5 linked regions of the Homo sapiens genome follow. The protein of the gene in region 2 purifies or fractionates together with the protein of the main gene of each other region. This does not show direct contact. Each region holds a gene or a part of one and is shown on either strand. Other genes may lie near its edges.

Region 1 (3,597 bases), on a different chromosome or scaffold from region 2:
TAAATGAGGACTTTTCTCATCTGAAATCTATTGTCAAGCATAAATAAGCAATTCCCAGCTGTACATTTAGAAAGACATAATTTCTAGTCCTTAATACCATTACTTCAGATGGGATATTTAATATGATGCTTCTGATACATTGTAATCTATTCTTTAAATACTAAATCTTTAAAAGGGTTATGTAACTTTGCCAGTAGCTCAAATTACTGGGCACACTAGGCTACGAAGTTCAAACATAAGATCTTAGATGCAGTGTAACACTTATAGTGAATCGCACAAGATAGTCAACTTGAACAAAATATTTTTTAAAAAGACATAATTTTGCATACTGTATTAACTATATTTTTCCATTAAAAATTACAGAAAGTTGGAGACTTTAAAATAATCCTTAAATTACAGAATCTTTTTTTTTTTTTTTTGCGGGGGGGACGGGGTCTCGCTCTCTTGCCAGGCTGGAGTGCTGTGGCATGATCTTGGCTCACTGGAACCTCCGCCTCCCGGGTTCAAGTGATTCTCCTGCCTCAGCCTCCTGAGTAGCTGGGACTACAGGCACACACCACCACGCCCAGCTAATTTTGGTATTTTTAGTAGAGATGGGGTTTCACCATGCTGGTCAGGATGGTCTCAATCTCTTGACCTCGTGATCCGCCCGACTCAGCCTCCCAAAGTGCTGAGATTACAGGCAAGAGCCACCATGCCCAGCCTACAGAATCTTAAAGCAACACCAGGTATTACCCAGTCCAATTCATTCATTTTGCAGATATGAAAACTGAGGCACAAGAAGCTTAAACGACTCAGGCAAAAACAAGACTAGAAAAACCTAGTTTTCCAATTCACTGTCAAATGTTCTTTTCATAATACTACACTGACTCCCCTGCAACACAAACACATACACAAGGATGCAAATATGTAAATGAGCCTATAATTTTTCAAGTGGCTCTGCACGCAGGTAAACATGCTCTGCCCTCAACCCTCCTCTTCCTGGCCCCCTAAGGCGATCTGACTAGAAGGCATATTCACACCCCACAAAATCAGAAACAAGGGGGACTACAGTGCACTTTTTCCTTTTTGCTCTCAATTACTGTGAGACCAGAGTTGCAAAACAACTTGTGGCTTTTCACCCATTTCCCTATCTAATCTGGACTGTTACAGGAAGATATGACCTTACCTTTCCTTAGCTACACACCACTAATCTAAGATAAAATAAGTATTCACCTATAATAGGCCCTATAGTTCTCTCTCAACCCCAACCAAACTCAGGTTCTCTGACAATCAAACACAATAAAAACAAAAGAAATGTACTGGGCGTGGAGGCTCATGCCTATAATCCCAGCACTTTGAGAGGCCAAGGTGGGAGGACTGCTTAAGTCCAGGAGTTCAAGACCTACCTGGGAAACATAGGGAGACCCTATCTCTACATAAATTTTTTTTAAAAAATTAGCCATGCATGATGACACAAGCCTGTAGTCCTAGCTACTCAGGAGGCTGAGGTGGGAGGATCACTTGAGCCCAGGAGGTCAAGGCTACAGTGTGCAGTGTGCTATGATCCTGCCATGGCACTCCAGCCTGGGCGGCAGCCAAAAAAAAAAAAAAAAGAGAAATGAAAGAACAAACATAAAATTTAGGGCTATCTAATTTATACAAAGACTGTCCTGAGTTGTTTTTCGGTTTTTGGTTTTGCTTTTTTTTTTTTTTTTTTTTTTTTTGAGAAAGGGTCTCGCTCTGTCACCCAGAATGGAGTACAGTGGTGCAATCATAGCTCACTGTAGCCTCGAACTCCTGGGCTCAAGCGATTCTCCCACCTCAGCCTCCAGAGGAGGTGGGACCACAGGTGCATGCCAGCACACCTTGCTAATTTCTTTTTTTAATTTTTAGTAGAGGCTAGGTCTTCCTATGTTGCTCAGGCTGGTCTCGACCTCCTGGCCTCAAGTGATCCTCCTTCCTTGCCTCCCAAAGTGGTGGGATTACAGGCATGAACTACTGTGCCTTGCCTGAGTGTTTTTTTTTTTTTAATAGATTCTACCATGTAGCACAGGCTTATTTTCAATAATGCCTTAAGTCTTACATATGTACTGAAAGATGTTTTTGTCTTTAAATAAAATAAGTGACCCAAGAAACCATAAGGATTTGTTATGTAATTTATAGTAACAGAAGACATGTCACGGCTATAACAGAGACCTGTAGGTGTATACTCACATGCAAATCAACTAAATTTCACTTTAAAATAGCACTGTAGTCCCAACAACAATGCTCATATACCTAAAAATATAATTTTTAAAAAGTATTTATTTATTGTATCTGACTTCTAATCCATGAGACTATTTAAAAGTCCAGTCTTAGTATAAAGTACATTGTCTGGCATAACATATATAAATTTTATTGTAAGAGGATTCTGAGAAGGTGTTTCCCTGTCATTCCAAAATTTCCGCTATGGCTCAAATTTTCAAATAGAAGTTTTCCCCCATACCCCACATTCTAAAGTAAGAGGACAATGAGATACTCAAAGTTGAGACCAGAACTTCCTGAGAGTATCCATAAAGCAAGAAATCAAGTGTCCATAGACTCTATAAGTCATAATTTCCACATGTATACTTTCCAAATATATGAGAATTTTTTTTACATTTACAAGAACTTATTTCAAAGTTTTATAGTAGCTTTTGCTGTTACGTATTTTCTCAGTCAACAGATACTAAAAACATAGTTACTACTACATGAAAGGGTCTCCATTATTTTTAAAGAGTTGGAAATTACTCAATACTATATACTGTATGTAAATGTGTCACTTTAGACAAATGTTATGAATAATATACTATTTTTATAAACCTAGAATCAGGATATACCATTCGCCTGGGAACTAGACCCTAAGAAAACACTTCCTGGTTTTTTGGGGATTTTTGTTTGTTTTCTGAGATAGGGTCTCACTCTATTGCCCAGTCTGGAGTGCAGTGGCACGATCTTGGCTCACTGCAACCTCTGCTTCCTGGGCTCAAGCAATCCTCTCACCTCAGCCTCCTGAGTAGCCAGGACTACAAGCATGCAACACAATGCCCAGCTAATTTTTGTAGTTTTTGTAGAGATGGGTCTCACTACGCCGCCCAGGCTGGACTCAAGTGATCCACCCGCCTCAGCCTCCCAAAGTGCTGGGATTACGGGTATGAGCCACCAAACCCAGCCGAAAACACCTCCTATACCAGCATTCTTTCTCTGTTTCACCTATATTCATCTCCACATTTTATAAACCTCTTTAATCGTGTAAATAAAGCCCTCTCATAAAATACATTCCCTCAACTTTCCTTTAGGAAACCAAGTATCAATAAATAGCCCTGAGGTTTCCACATCAGCACAGCTGGGTAACCCAATCACAGCAATGCCCAGTAACAATGCTGCTCCAGGCTACCACGGCCAAGTGTCAGAGATCAGGGTATAGTGACCGGAGTGGCCAACTCAAGTAAGTGTACAGGAACCTTGCAGTCAACACTTGAAGAGATAAGGCAAGCAAGGAATTCTGTAAAAATGAGGGAAGTATGTGATTTATCATTATTTTTCATTTTACATTAGGAAGTTATCAATAATTATTTTATGGATAAGAACCTGACC
Region 2 (3,184 bases):
GCACTTATCAGCACTTTTGAGCTGTCTTCTGGAGTCCTGGTAAAAAGGGCTACTCTGCCTGCCTGATTCAAGACAAGGGACCCCCTTCCCAACAGCACCCCCGCCCCTTGCCGTGCAACCCAGTGGTCTCCAGTCACCCCACCACATCGTCCCCTCTGTAACCTGACGGTCTCCAGTTCCCCCACCACCTTCCCCCAGAACCTGTTGGTCTCCAGTCCCCACCCCATCACCACCAACTCCCAACTCCCCACTGGAACCCAGCAGTCTCGTATCTCCATCAGTGAGGACAGTGTGAGAAATGGTGTCTGGCTCAGGCACTTGGCAGCACTTGAGGGGTCCTCAGATGTCTCCTGCCCAGCAAGGATCTGACTAAAGCAGTCGTGGGTGTGGGAGGGGCCTGCAGGCATGCCTGGGTTGGGGGCAGCTGGCCCTGGGCACCCTGGTGCAGGTCCAGTCTGCCCTCTGGATGGCCCCTCCTCTTCCCCAGATTACTACTTTGTAACCAGGGAGGTGATGCAGCGTGACATAGCAGCCGGCGACTTCATCGAGCATGCCGAGTTCTCGGGGAACCTGTATGGCACGAGGTGGGCCATGCGTGGGTGTGGGTGGGCTCCCAGGGTTGCTGTTGGCAACAGGGATCCAGGTAGTGCCTGCTGCCTGCCCGCCATCCACACCACCCACCCCATGGTTATGAATGTGGCCAGGTTGTGGCCCAGGGCCAGGCTCCCACGTCTGTGGCCCACAGTGGCTCTTTTCATGAGGCTGCTGGGCCCGGTCCTGCCACCGTGCATTGTCCTGGCAGGGTGAAGGGTGCACAGGACACCTCATGCTCACTACAGGCACCTTGGGGAGTGGGTGGCCTCTGTTCCCTGTAGGCGGGGCAGGGCGTGGGGGTAGCAGGTTTGAGATGCTGTCGGGTGCTGGGTCCAGGCCAGGCCTAGGCTCAGCTGTGGGAGGAGAACGCTGGGCCCGGGAGGGCCTGGGTGTCCCTGAAGCTCCTGTAGGCCTCAGAGAGCCCTGGCACCCCTGCTGACCTGGCACCTCTCCCCAGCAAGGTGGCGGTGCAGGCCGTGCAGGCCATGAACCGCATCTGTGTGCTGGACGTGGACCTGCAGGGTGTGCGGAACATCAAGGCCACCGATCTGCGGCCCATCTACATCTCTGTGCAGCCGCCTTCACTGCACGTGCTGGTGTGTGCTGGGCAGGGTTGGGGGCTGGGGGCCAGGGCATGCCAGGCTCTGATTGCCACCCCCTTTTTAGGAGCAGCGGCTGCGGCAGCGCAACACTGAAACCGAGGAGAGCCTGGTGAAGCGGCTGGCTGCTGCCCAGGCCGACATGGAGAGCAGTGAGTGTGCCGTGGGATCACCAGGGAATGCCAGGAGGGGAGTCAGGGTTCTGAGGTCTGTGGCACCAGGGACCCTGTGGGTCCCCAGACCTCCTGACACCTGGAGTCCCTGTGAGGGTCCTCAGACCTCTCAACTACCTCCCAACACCTAGAGTCCCCGTGAGGGTCCCCAGAACCCACCCCCAGTCACCAAGGGTCTCATTGAGGGTCCTCAGATTTCCCTCTGTTACCCAGAGTCTCCGTGAGGGCCCCCAGACCCCCCATCGCCCAGGGTCCCATGAGATGTCCCCAACCTTCTAGCCCCGGGGGTGTCATGTGCATCCTCTTACAGCTGTTGCCTCTTCTCTGGGTCTGACTGCAGCCCACAAGAAGAGGGCATTTAATGTTCTGCTGTGTGTGTAGAGGATAGTGTAGCCCCTAACCAGAGTCCTGATGGGTGCTGGTGTCCAGACCCAAGTTCTGGGGCTCCAGAGAGAGCAGGAGTGGTGCCTGAGGACTGAGGCCCAGGGGGCGGCCCTTCCCTACCCTGCACAGGCCCGGCTGGGCTGGAAAGCTGTCCCACAGCCGCAGTGAGGACAGCCGCAGGCCAGTGGGCTGCTCTGGGGGTCGTGTGGGACCTGGGGTGGGGCTGCATGGGCTCACTGTGCCCTGACCCCAGGCCCCACCCACAGGCAAGGAGCCCGGCCTGTTTGATGTGGTCATCATTAACGACAGCCTGGACCAGGCCTACGCAGAGCTGAAGGAGGCGCTCTCTGAGGTGGGCCCATCCTTGTGCCTACCTGGGCAAGGCCCAAGGGGAGGCCTGGGGGCCAGGCCTTTGTTGTCCATGAGGCCACTGAGGTTAGATGGGACAGTCCTACCCAAGCACTGGCATGAGACACCGAGGTCCACGGTGGAGGGAGAGCAGGAAGCCCAGCCCTTCCTGGATACCAGCCCTCCCAACTCCCTTTCTTCCTCACTGGCAGGAAATCAAGAAAGCTCAAAGGACCGGCGCCTGAGGCTTGCTGTCTGTTCTCGGCACCCCGGGCCCATACAGGACCAGGGCAGCAGCATTGAGCCACCCCCTTGGCAGGCGATACGGCAGCTCTGTGCCCTTGGCCAGCATGTGGAGTGGAGGAGATGCTGCCCCTGTGGTTGGAACATCCTGGGGTGACCCCCGACCCAGCCTCGCTGGGCTGTCCCCTGTCCCTATCTCTCACTCTGGACCCAGGGCTGACATCCTAATAAAATAACTGTTGGATTAGAAACTCCATAAATGAGTGGAATGTGGCCCCAAGGTTGGTGGGGCCCCATCATCCCGATCGGGCCCTGAGCTCCGGCAGCCCACCCTAACCACCAGCCCCAAGGAGGGCCACAAGATGGCCTCTGCCTAGGCATCTGCTGCCTGCCGGCTCGTGGCTGCTGCCCCAGGGCAGCATGATGCTTGACTGGCAGGCAGGGAAGGTGGCAGGGCTGGTCCCAACCCACCTGGCAGGCTGGCAAGTGGGGAGCAGGAAGCGGCTGCATGGGGCAGCCTGAGGCTGCAGGGGTGGGCCCTGAGGGCTGCCTCTTGGTGCCCGACCCTGTGGGTCTGGCATGGGCCAGAGGTTCCAGGAGAGGCCCCTGAGCTCTGGCAGCTGGAGGTTCTAGATCTCGAGGTCTAAGGGGTTCCCTGAGGGAGATGCCCCTCCCCTAGCTGCCCCAGGGGCTGTGTGTGGTGTGTGAGGAGCCTCCTCTGCTCAGGCTGCCTCCCTCCTTCCCCAGTGCTCCCCCAGCTTGCCTGTCTAAGGCAGCACAGGGCCGTGCTGCCAGCCACCCCTAGGGTCAGCCCCAGCCCTGTTCTGAGCCTAGGTGAGGTGC
Region 3 (3,597 bases), on a different chromosome or scaffold from region 2:
CAGAGCAAGACCCTGTCTCAAAAAAAAAAGAATTGGATCTTGAGGAACATGTCACCCCCATGTCTTTAGTTCAGCAAAACTTCACAGAGAAAGGCCACCTCATAAAATCGTGAGGAAGGGCAAACAAAATATAAGGAAGATTCAGAACCACAAGCAAAAAATACAGCTAATGGGGTTGTCTAAGTAAAGAAAGAAAATAGCTCAGATGTTTTTCCCATGCTTCACTAAAGCCTTCATTTTCATGTGTCAGGGTGCTAATATAAAACTTCAGTGATAAGTTGTATATCTAGTGCCAAAGACTAGTTTCTTTAGGGGTGCCATTGAATCAAAATCTTTCATATCTATAAAACTTTTGAAATATACTGAGATATGAGATCTCAAAGGCAGATAGATAAAAGCACATATTCTGGCATCAGAATACCTGGGTTTGAAAGCTGTTTCTGCCATTTATCTGTAGAGTAACCTGGGCAAGTTACTTCTAAATATAATGATAAAATATCTACTTTAAACAGTTGTTACGAGGAATGTAATTGGTAAAATATGTAAAGTCCTTGGAATGGTGCCATGTTTATTTTAATTGCTATGTAAATGTTCAAGATGACTGCTATTATTCCTTGTTCAGACTTATATTTAGCTCTAATTTTTCTCAGAAAACTTTCTTAGGGTGAGATTACTGTAGTTAAGCTGAAGTGATGTAGCTGGTTTTTGTGCATGTTAAAAGTAAAATAATTTTTGCAGTTTCTTTAATGTAAATTATCTGTGTGCAAAATAATGCTAATGTCAACGCAGTGTTCCAATTGTGTGATTATCTTCCATTTAATTTTCAGGAGAATCCTCATTGACACTGGAGAACCAGCAATTCCAGAATACATCAGCTGTTTAAAGCAGGCTCTAACTGAATTTAACACAGCAATCCAGGAAATTGTAGTGACTCACTGGCACCGAGATCATTCTGGAGGCATAGGAGATATTTGTAAAAGCATCAATAATGGTAAACAGAAAACATTCATTAAGCTCATTGAGGAAAGCCGTGTTTGGAGAATAATTTATTTCAGTTACAGAGCTAAGTAGTCTATAAACCATTTACTAAATACCTCAGTTTTAAATGGTACTTTTAGAAATTGATTAGACTGTTGAATACTGTGCCTAGTTTTAACAAAGGAGGAACGGAAATCCTGATTTCTGTTTCAAATCCTCAATTTTACTTTAGTGTGTGAGTTACTATTCAGACTTAATCATAACTAACAACTGTTGAGCATTTACTCTGTGCCAGGCACTGCACTAAACAATTTATGTGGATACTGTGAGGTAGGTGCTCTTATTGTTCACATTCTAACAGATTATCTCAGTCCTTCTGTAACTTTAAGGCAGTTACTAAGATATGCTGAAATTCAGGCAATATATCATTGTATTGATAATTCATTGTCCCTGAAACCTATACAGTACTGACATTTTCTATCTCTTTATTTCCTCATCCCACCATCATATACCTAGATTCATTCATTCATTCATTAAATATTCCAGTTACTGTTATATGTCAGACAGTGTTCTTGGCACAAGGGGTATAGCAGTGAACAAAACAGACTCTGTTCTCATGGAGCTTTCATTCCAGTAGGGAAGGTACTGGTAAATAAATAATAGATCAGGCTGGGTGCAGTGGCTCATGCCTGTAATCCCAGCACTTTGGGAGGTCAAGGTGTGTGGATTGCTTGAGCTCAGGAGTTCAAGACCAGCTTGGGCAACATAGCAAGACCCTGTCTCTACAAAAAAAGTACAAAAATTTCCCGGGTATGGTGGCGTGCACCTGCAGTCCCAGCTACTCGGGAGGCTAAGGTGGGCAGATGGCTTGAGCCAGGGAAGCTGAGGCTGCAGTAAGCCAATATTGTGCCACTGCACTCCAGCCTGGGCACCAGAATGAAAAAAAAAGGGAAAAAAATAGATCAGATAATCATGGGTGCTATGCAGGAAAATAAAGGTACAAGAAGAGAAAGGGAAGAGAGCGTAAAGTGGAGAAGGGCAAGGGCTGTTATATCCAGAGTGGACAGAGAGAAGGAGCAAGCTCCTGGCAGGAAGGCCTGCAGGCAAACAGCATTGCAGGAGCAAAGATGGTGGAATGAGAGTGTGGTTGGCACATTCAGGGCACAGTAAGGAGGTCAAGAACATTCATGCTTATTTACATTGAGCTAGTATTTTTAAACATTTGTAAAGATCTGCTTTTTTAGGCCTTGTGACTACAATTGGGACATCTCAGCTACCACACCCAATATCACCAGGCTGCCAGTTATAAAAAACTGGCAACCAAGCTTCCTTACCCTCTTAGCTCCTTTCTTCCAATCTAAGGGGACTGTGTACCATAGGAACTTATAATCTGTCAGTCTGACTTTTCCTTCTCTTGTCTTACCTCTTTTAATTTTGTCTTACCTCTTCTTTTAATCTACCTATTAAATCTTGTGAATTAAAAAACTATTTTATGCCAGGGACGGTGGTGTGTGCTTATAATCCCATCCACTCAGGAGACTGAGGCAGGACGATAGTTTGAGCCCAGCAGTTCAAGACCAGCCTGAGCTACAAAGTGAAACCCTGTTTGCGGGAAAAAAAAAGAAAAAAAAAAAGAAACTACTCTGTGATTTCTTAATTAGCTTTGTCACCTCAGCCAACTCTTCAGATTTTTCAGTTTGAAAAATTAAAATGTTTATGGCCCACTTTTTTCCTTCATAAATCAATTTTATTGAGCTTTAATTTACATACATAAAATGTGCCCATTTTAAGTGAACAGTTTAGTGAGTTTTAACAAACATCAATACCTATGTGACCATTCCAGTCAAGATATGGAACACTTCCTCCATTCCAAAAAGAGGTCCCCTCATGCTGCTTTGCAGTGATTTCCCCCATCCCCAGCCTCCAACAACCACTCAAATAGGATATGTGTTTTCATTTATATTTGCACATAATTTTGAAGACAGATACAAAGTTATAGTATGACATTTATTTTGTAATTTTGATATAATTGTGATTTTTTAATTGTCTACTAAAGGTCTCATAAGCAGAAATGTAATGCCTCCATTTCTTTACTGAAAGATAAAATTATACAGCTTATAAACAAAACAAACAAAAAAACCTCAATATCTCAATCTTGTTATATAATGTCAATTCCCAGAAAAGCATATCATTGTTTTCCTTCGGCCTCTTAGATACAAAATAATAGAGTTTGGGGTTGGAAGGGGAGGTGGTATTTGTTGTTGTTTCTTTTTATTTCAGTGTTTCTGTCTCCTTTATCCTCAAACTAGCAAATTTCTGTGCCTTGTCCATTTTTCTTTGAAATATCTCTTTCTCCCTTCATATTTCCAGTGCTACCGTCTTAACCCTACTATTCATTACCTTCTAGCTGGGAAATTGTAGTCATTCCCCTCCTGGGCTCTCTGATCTCCTTTTGGTCTCCCTACCCACAGCCGCCATATTGATCATCAGTTAACACTATTTCATTATCTTACTAAAGAGTGTGCAGTGATTACACGTGGTAAAGTTTAAATTCTCCTATTTTGTAAAAGGCAATTTGAGACCCTTTCTGATCTGAGCTTATCTTACCTATCCAACTTT
Region 4 (3,597 bases), about 200 Mb from region 2:
GGCCGCAGGGTCCTCTGCCTAGGAAAACCAGAGACCTTTGTTCACTTGTTTATCTGCTGACCTTCCCTCCACTATTGTCCCATGACCCTGCCAAATCCCCCTCTGTGAGAAACACCCAAGAATTATCAATAAAAAAATAAATTAAAAAAAAAAAAAAGAATAGTTGTATTAATGGGAAAAACTAGGGTTTGGCAGTGGATTCCTCTTGATGCAAGTGTCACAACATGATTTGCTATTATACTGATTTTTAAAACTATTAGTCTGTTCTCACATTGCTATAAAGAACTACCTGAGACTGGGTAATTCATAAAGAAAAGAGGTTTAATTGACTGGCAGTTCTGCAGGTTGTACAGGAAACTTGTCTGGGGAGGCCTCAGGAGACTTACAAGTATGATAGAAGTCAAAGGGGAAGCAGACATGTCTTTCATGGCCGGAGAAGGAAGAAGAGAGAAGGGGGAGGTGTTACATATTTTTAAACAACCAGATCTTGTGAGAACTCACTCTCTGTCACAGGAACAGCAAGGGAAGTCTGCCCTTGTGATCCAGTCACCTCCCACAAGGCCCCTCTTCCACCATTGAAAATTACAATTTGATATGAGATTTGGGCAAGGACAGAAATTTAAACCATATTATATATCAAGTCATGAACAGTGTCCAGGAAAAGATATTGACAGCCTATCACTTGATAAAGTGGCAGAATTAATCTATGTTATCCCTCTGAGCATCACATGCTGATAGTTACCTGAGAGCTATAATTCCATTCCAAGTTCTAGGTTAGTGTACTCAGATTTCTGTCATTCCCTTAAAATACATTTTTACTTACTGCTAGTGCATATATTTGAAATTTTACAGACTTTAAAATTTATTGAACATAAGCCATAAAGTCATCAAGGAACCCCTTTAGTTATGTATATAAATGTAGAAATAAGCCTTTGGGAATAGTGAGTTAAAACTACAAGCTCTTGGGAAGACATTACCTTATTCATGTTGGGCAGAGATGTAAGAATGAAATAAGTCATGTAGTTACCCTTCTATTACTGTTTTTTTTTTATACATGTGTACACAAAGCAAGTTTCCCAATATAACTCCTAAAAATAGAGTGTGCCACCAGGCACACACCCTTACTGTGTCCTAAAATACATGAATTTCTCCTATTCCATTTTTGGCTTGGAGCAAGTGAGTTGACTGCCATTCTTTGAAAAAGCTGTCATTGAATAGTTTAATACAGTGCTTTAATTGTGATACATACCAGTAATAGTGCCATAAACATGGGAATCTGGGTCAGAAAAGGAAGTAAACCCATTATAGCTATTTCAGAGTTGTCTGTTTCTTTTCATTTGCAGATTTTTTAAAGGCATTATTCCTATAGGTTGATTGATATTTGCAGATTTGTATATATATGTTAAAGTGTGTATGTGGAAATATGTGTAAGTGTATATGTTAAGTGTTTATATATATAAAAAGTGGCGCATGGGAGGTAGGCATTCAGGGCCTTATAATTAGAAAATATCAAAGAAGATATATGTTTATTACCTAGGGCTTTATGTAAAATCAATGGTAGAGAGCACTTAAAATTGAAGCTTATATTTTTTGGTCTTTAACAATCATAGGTCTCCAGTAAATATAAAAAATGCTTCTTAGGGCAACTAAAACTAAGCAAGTAGTACGTGATAATGAGTCTGTACCATCCCTACCCCCTAGTCATCAACTTCCCCTTCAGAGAGATAATTTATTTTAGGTTTGGTCTTTATTCTTCCAAATCTTTTCCTTTTTTCTTTTTCTTTTTTTTTTTTTTTTGAGACACGGTCTGCCTCTGTCACCGAGGCTGGAGTGCAGTGGCACGATCACAGCTTACTCTGTAGCCTTGAGCTCCTGGGCTCAAGTAATCCTCCAGCCTCAGCCTCCCAAGTAGCTAGGACTACAGGCATTTACTGCCATACCTGGCTAATTTTTTATTTTTAAGAGACAGGGTCTCCCTGTGTTGCCCAGGCTGGTCTTGAACTCCTGGGCTCAAGCAGTCCTCTGGCCTTGGTCTCCCAAAGTGCTGGGATTACAGACTTTAGCCACTGTGCCTGGCCTCGTCCAAATCTTTTCTATGAGTTTACACACTTGCAGTCTTGAACAAAATTTTAAAGAGAAAGTACCTCAAGAAAGTGAGCATTGGTTCAAAAAACAAAAACAAACAACCCACCAGTATATATGAAAGTTATCACAGAGGAATAAAACATCCCTGTAGTACTTTTCATAATATATTCTTAATCTTAAAACATTAAATGTGACTCTTTTTAGAAATCTTGGGGGAGAAAATATGCCTACAGTGCTTATTTTCCTGCTTTTCCTGGTAATTGCCTAATATCTTGGTGAGAAGTACTGACTCCAGAACAAACCAGTGGAGAACAATAGAACTCCTCTGAGAGTTACTTAGCAGCTCACTCTATGATTTGAAAAAAATGATTGTTACATGACATTTCATCCATAAGAACAAGCCCATTTCTAGTTCTGGCACTGTATGACATGTTCTCTTTGAATCTCAGTTGGCATTAATGACTATGCTGGTAGTATTCATGTGTCCCTTGTGAGGCTGTGAACAATCTCCCATTACTTGCCTGCCAGAGCAGCCTTCGTGCTTTGGTGGGAGTCATTTCCAAATCTAATTTTCTGTTCATATTGCAATTTAAAGAACGTTTAGATAGAAAAAAAAGGGCCCAGGCTTCACAAAGAATTTCAATTTACATCAACGATTTGAACAAAAGCTTCAGATAATATAAGTGAAAATACTAAAATTGGGGCAGAGTTAAAGATGTTCTGGCATGTCATCAGTTGGGAAACAACCATGGCATAGTATAGAAAATTTCAGGAGTGAGACCTAGCTGTGTATGGAGAGAGCTCTATCACTGATTTCACTGGGACCTGGGGCGAGCTGCCTCATCTTCCTTGGAGTTAGTTACCTTATATTTAAAATCAGGAGAAAAGGGAAAAAAACTTCACTTTTGTAATAGTTTAAAATGTTACAATGGAACTATGAAACTGATAGTTCTGCATATCTTAAAAGGCAGTTAGAAACTCAGAAAAAAATCTGATTCCCAAATAGACTCTTCAGATAGTTTTATCTTCATGATCATGTCTCTGTGGTTCCACCTTTCTGAAAACAGTCTTCAGTAACTTAAGAAATCATTTCAACTTCCATGATCTTCAGTAGCAGCAGCATGAATGACACATGCCAAGAGACTAAATGGAATGAGATAAGCCTGTCTTTCAGAGACATCATCTATTTCCTGCTGCTGTCCAGACAGGAAAGTCAGACTCCATTTTTCCCCTTTGTAAAGTTGACTTGAGCTACATGAAGCACTTGTTAGAACAGTCCAATTCAAGATAATTGTGCTTTATGACTGCATTCAGAATCACATGTGTACCCACTGTGTGTGTGGGGGGTGTGTGTATGTGTGTGCATGTGTGTGGGTGGGTGGGTGGAGGGGGTGTGTGTGGGTAGGTGGGTGGTGGGGGTGTGTGTGTATGTGTGGGTGGGTGGGTGGTGGGGTGTGTGTAGGTGGGTTGGAGTGTGTGGGTTGAGGGTGTGTGTGTATGTGGGTGGGTGGG
Region 5 (3,597 bases), on a different chromosome or scaffold from region 2:
GAGGAAAAAAATGAGCAATCAAGTGTGGTGATACTCTAAAAATATCATGTGAAACTTGTAACACACTTCATAATCCAACCTGTAAAAACAATTTATTCTAAACTAATATTTGCAATTGTCTTCTTTAATGAAGAGCTAAGAATTTCAAACTACTCCAAACTAAAACGTGTAGATCAGGAACCAATCTTAAGTGAATTGCAGGTGGAAAATCCTACTAAAAAATATAATGCAAATAACATTTCAGCCAAATAATTTTGTTAAAAGAAATATATTGATCAAAACTACTCTTACTGGCAGCAGGAACAAAAACGTGAGAGTCAGTCTATTCATTGCTGGACTGAATGAGCAAGTGAAAGAGAATCTGAATGGAATGGGAGAGACGTGCACAAACCTTCAGAACCCCCTGCCTTCTCTTAGTTCCTAGGTCTTCAGCAGTTATTTTTTGTAGTACTGACAGCTATCTCGCAGACCAACTAACTGCACACTGAACTGAGGTTTGAGTACTACACTTTTAAAAACTAAAATACCAAAACAAATCAAAGCAATCTGAACCAACCGGAAGGGTAAAAGAACTGGAAACTTTGTCAGAAAATAACTGGGGTTACTGAGGCTGGAGGGGGAAAAGGGCGGGAAGTGCATGGGCAAGACTGGACAGACAGCAGGATAGGTTAACAATAATGCAACTTTCAAATACATGAAAAGTAGAATCAAAGAGAATTCAGCTGAAATTTCTTTGAGCACTAATTAAATGTTTGCTGACCCAACCTACCACTAGAATTGCTGGGCCATAAGGTATGCAAATACCAGCTTTATTAGGTAATGCCAGTGTCATAGCAGGTTACACCACCCTGTAGTGTGGTGTACCACCCTCAACAAGATTCAGTGATGGAAGGTTTCTTCAATTTGTACCAATCTGGTACCTGAACAATTCATCTCACTTTAATTTTAATTTGCATTTCCTTGATTTCGATGGAAAATGATCGCTCCATTGTTTTTAAGTGAAGCACTAGTTTATAATAATTAAAATGTCACATAGGACTGATTTACTCAGATCTAGAAAAAAAAATCTACCAGACCTGGAAGTCAGAATCACAAACTCAGGCCTCATCCTGGAATCTTGCCGCTTGTTTACAAAAACAGCTGTATGCCAACCTCTGCCAAGATACAGATTGCTGGATTTGGCCAATATGAATGTTCTTTAAGACCCAACACAAGACTGGTTCTTTTAGGTAGTCTCCCTCCCCAGTACCATTCCCCATCTACCTACTCTATTTAATACCCACACTCTATACTCCCATGGTCCCCTGGCACTACCAACATAAGTTTTCATCTGTGTGCTAATTGACTTTTTAGCTCTGTGTCTATCCTGGCTCCAGTTCCTTAAAGGCACAAGCAGGGATTGCATACCCTCAACATGCCCAGGGCCTGGAGAAAATGCTGGGAAATGACAGAACTTCAGTGAATGTGCTTTTACCTAGGGAGGGTCATCTGGAAATACCTATCAAAATGACAAATCTGTTTACCCTTTTATCCAATAACCCAATTACTGGGAATAACTGAATTCACTCATATTTAAAAGATTATTTGTGGCCAGACGTGGTGGCTCATGCCCGTAATTCCAGCACATTGGGAGTCCGAGGTGGGTAGATCACGATGTCAGGAGTTCAAGCCCAGCATGGCCAAGATGATGAAACCCCATCTCTACTAAAAATACAAAATTTAGCCATGCGTGGTGGCGGGCGTCTGTAATCCCAGCTACTCGGGAGACTGAGGCACAAGAATTGTTTAAACCCGGGAGGCAGAGGTTGCAGTGAGCTGCAATCACACCACTGCACTCCAGTATGGGTGAGAGAGCAAGACCCTGTCTCACAAAAAAAAAAAAAAAAAAAAAAAAAAGATCATTAGCTACAGTATTATTTCTAATAGCAACAGATTATAAACAACCCAAATGTCCATAACTCATTCCTTAACTATGGCCAGAATAACCATTATTTATATTAACAAATAAACAGTGACATATCTACCTAATGGAATCCTATGTAAATGTGTCCTTTAAAGAGAGAGATTATATGTAAAGATATGGAATGCTCACCAAGATATATGATTAAGTAGAAAAAGCAGGGTATAGAGTAATATAAAAAGAAAGCTACCCTTTTAGAAAGGAGGGAAATAAACATCTGGATCTGCACAAAGAAACAATGGAAGGATAAACATGAAACTAATAAATGTGGCCACCTATTGGTTGGGGGAAGAATAGGAAGACTACGGAGAATTGTTTTGATTTCTAAATATGTAGATGTATTAGCTTAAAAAATAAACGTATGATAAAGAAATAAAATTACACAGAACTGGCCAGGCACGGTGGCTCACGCCTGTAATCCCAGCACTTTGGGAGGCCGAGGTGGGCAGATCACGAGGTCAGGAGTTCGGGACCAGCCTGGCCAACAAGGTGAAACTCCGTCTCTGATAAAAATACAAAAATCAGCCAGGCATGGTGGTGAGTGCCTGTAGTCCCAGCTACTCGGGAGGCTGAGGCAGAAGAATCGCTTGAACCTGGGAGGTGGAGGTTGCAGTGAGCCAAGATCATGCCACTGCACTTCAGCCTGGGCAACAGAGCAAGACTCTGTCTCCAAAAAAAAAAAAAAATACATGGAACTATTTATACCTTGGTAAAAAACCAACAGCACTGATTTGCCATTATCATTGTTGTTAATATTAATAAAAGATTACCTAGGCCACATGCAGTGGCTCATGCCTGTAATCCCAGCACTTTGGGAGGCCAAGGAGGGCAGATCACCTGAGGTCAGGAGTCCGAGACCATCCTGGCCAACATGGTAGAATCCTGTGTCTACTAAAAATACAAAAATTAGCCAGGCGTGGTGGCAGGCACCTGTAATCCCAGCTATTCGGGAGGCTGAGGCAGGAGAATGACTTGAACCCAGGAGGTGGAGGTTGCAGTGAGCCAAGATCATGCCATTGCACTCCAGCCTGGGCGACAAAAGCAAGACCTCATCTCAAAAAAAAAGATTTCCTACACTCCAAAATTCATTCAGAATCTTATAAAATGGGCATGAAAGAGGATATTAGCCTCTACCATTCAGATGGATAAAGCAGAAGCATTCAGGGCAAACATGGGGAACCTGTCATTTTTAATCTAGAAAATAGTTACCATGTATTGGATTCACTTCCTGTCTCAGCCTCAAAATCTTGCTGAGACCAAGAATAAAATATCTGTTATTTCAATATAAGTAACATCCTCGGCTGGGCGCGGTGGCTCATGCCTGTAATCCCAGCACTTTGGGAGGCCGAAGCAGGCGGATCATGAGGTCAGGAGTTTGAGACCAGCCTGGCCAATATGGTGAAACCCCGTCTCTACCAAAAATACAAAAATTAGCTGGGCGTGGTGGTGTGTGCCTGTAGTCCCAGCGACTCGGGAGGCTGAGGCAGAAGAATCGCTTGAACCCAGGAGGCGGAGGCTGCAGTGAGCCGAGATTGCGCCCTCAAAAACAAAACAAAACAAGTAACATCCTCGCTAGACAGTGGCTTGTAGCCCTTAATTTAAACCTGGCCTAAAACTGCCTCCATGCCTAGGGAGCT

What was found.
Region 1: the proteins of GUK1 (region 2) and MSRB3 fractionate together in Homo sapiens (co-fractionation; one large-scale study listed by BioGRID). This does not show direct contact.
Region 3: the proteins of GUK1 (region 2) and LACTB2 fractionate together in Homo sapiens (co-fractionation; one large-scale study listed by BioGRID). This does not show direct contact.
Region 4: the proteins of GUK1 (region 2) and CLIC4 fractionate together in Homo sapiens (co-fractionation; one large-scale study listed by BioGRID). This does not show direct contact.
Region 5: the proteins of GUK1 (region 2) and TIGAR fractionate together in Homo sapiens (co-fractionation; one large-scale study listed by BioGRID). This does not show direct contact.

The regions. Positions count from the first base shown.
Region 1 is NC_000012.12:65,285,130-65,288,726, reverse strand, and holds part of MSRB3 (methionine-R-sulfoxide reductase B3 isoform 2 precursor), read right to left. Parts: intron 1-3,597. UniProt on the Homo sapiens protein: Catalyzes the reduction of free and protein-bound methionine sulfoxide to methionine. Isoform 2 is essential for hearing.
Region 2 is NC_000001.11:228,146,355-228,149,538, forward strand, and holds the end of GUK1 (guanylate kinase), read left to right. Parts: intron 1-487; coding exon 488-584; intron 585-1,051; coding exon 1,052-1,190; intron 1,191-1,260; coding exon 1,261-1,345; intron 1,346-2,016; coding exon 2,017-2,102; intron 2,103-2,310; coding exon 2,311-2,343; coding exon of another isoform or gene 2,344-2,498; 3' UTR 2,499-2,597; downstream 2,598-3,184. UniProt on the Homo sapiens protein: Catalyzes the phosphorylation of GMP to GDP. Essential enzyme for recycling GMP and indirectly, cyclic GMP (cGMP). Involved in the cGMP metabolism in photoreceptors. It may also have a role in the survival and growth progression of some tumors.
Region 3 is NC_000008.11:70,659,128-70,662,724, reverse strand, and holds part of LACTB2 (endoribonuclease LACTB2), read left to right. Parts: exon of another isoform or gene 1-827; coding exon 828-991; exon of another isoform or gene 992-2,580; intron 2,581-3,597.
Region 4 is NC_000001.11:24,800,931-24,804,527, forward strand, and holds part of CLIC4 (chloride intracellular channel protein 4), read left to right. Parts: intron 1-3,597. UniProt on the Homo sapiens protein: In the soluble state, catalyzes glutaredoxin-like thiol disulfide exchange reactions with reduced glutathione as electron donor. Can insert into membranes and form voltage-dependent multi-ion conductive channels.
Region 5 is NC_000012.12:4,327,628-4,331,224, reverse strand, and holds part of TIGAR (fructose-2,6-bisphosphatase TIGAR), read right to left. Parts: intron 1-3,597.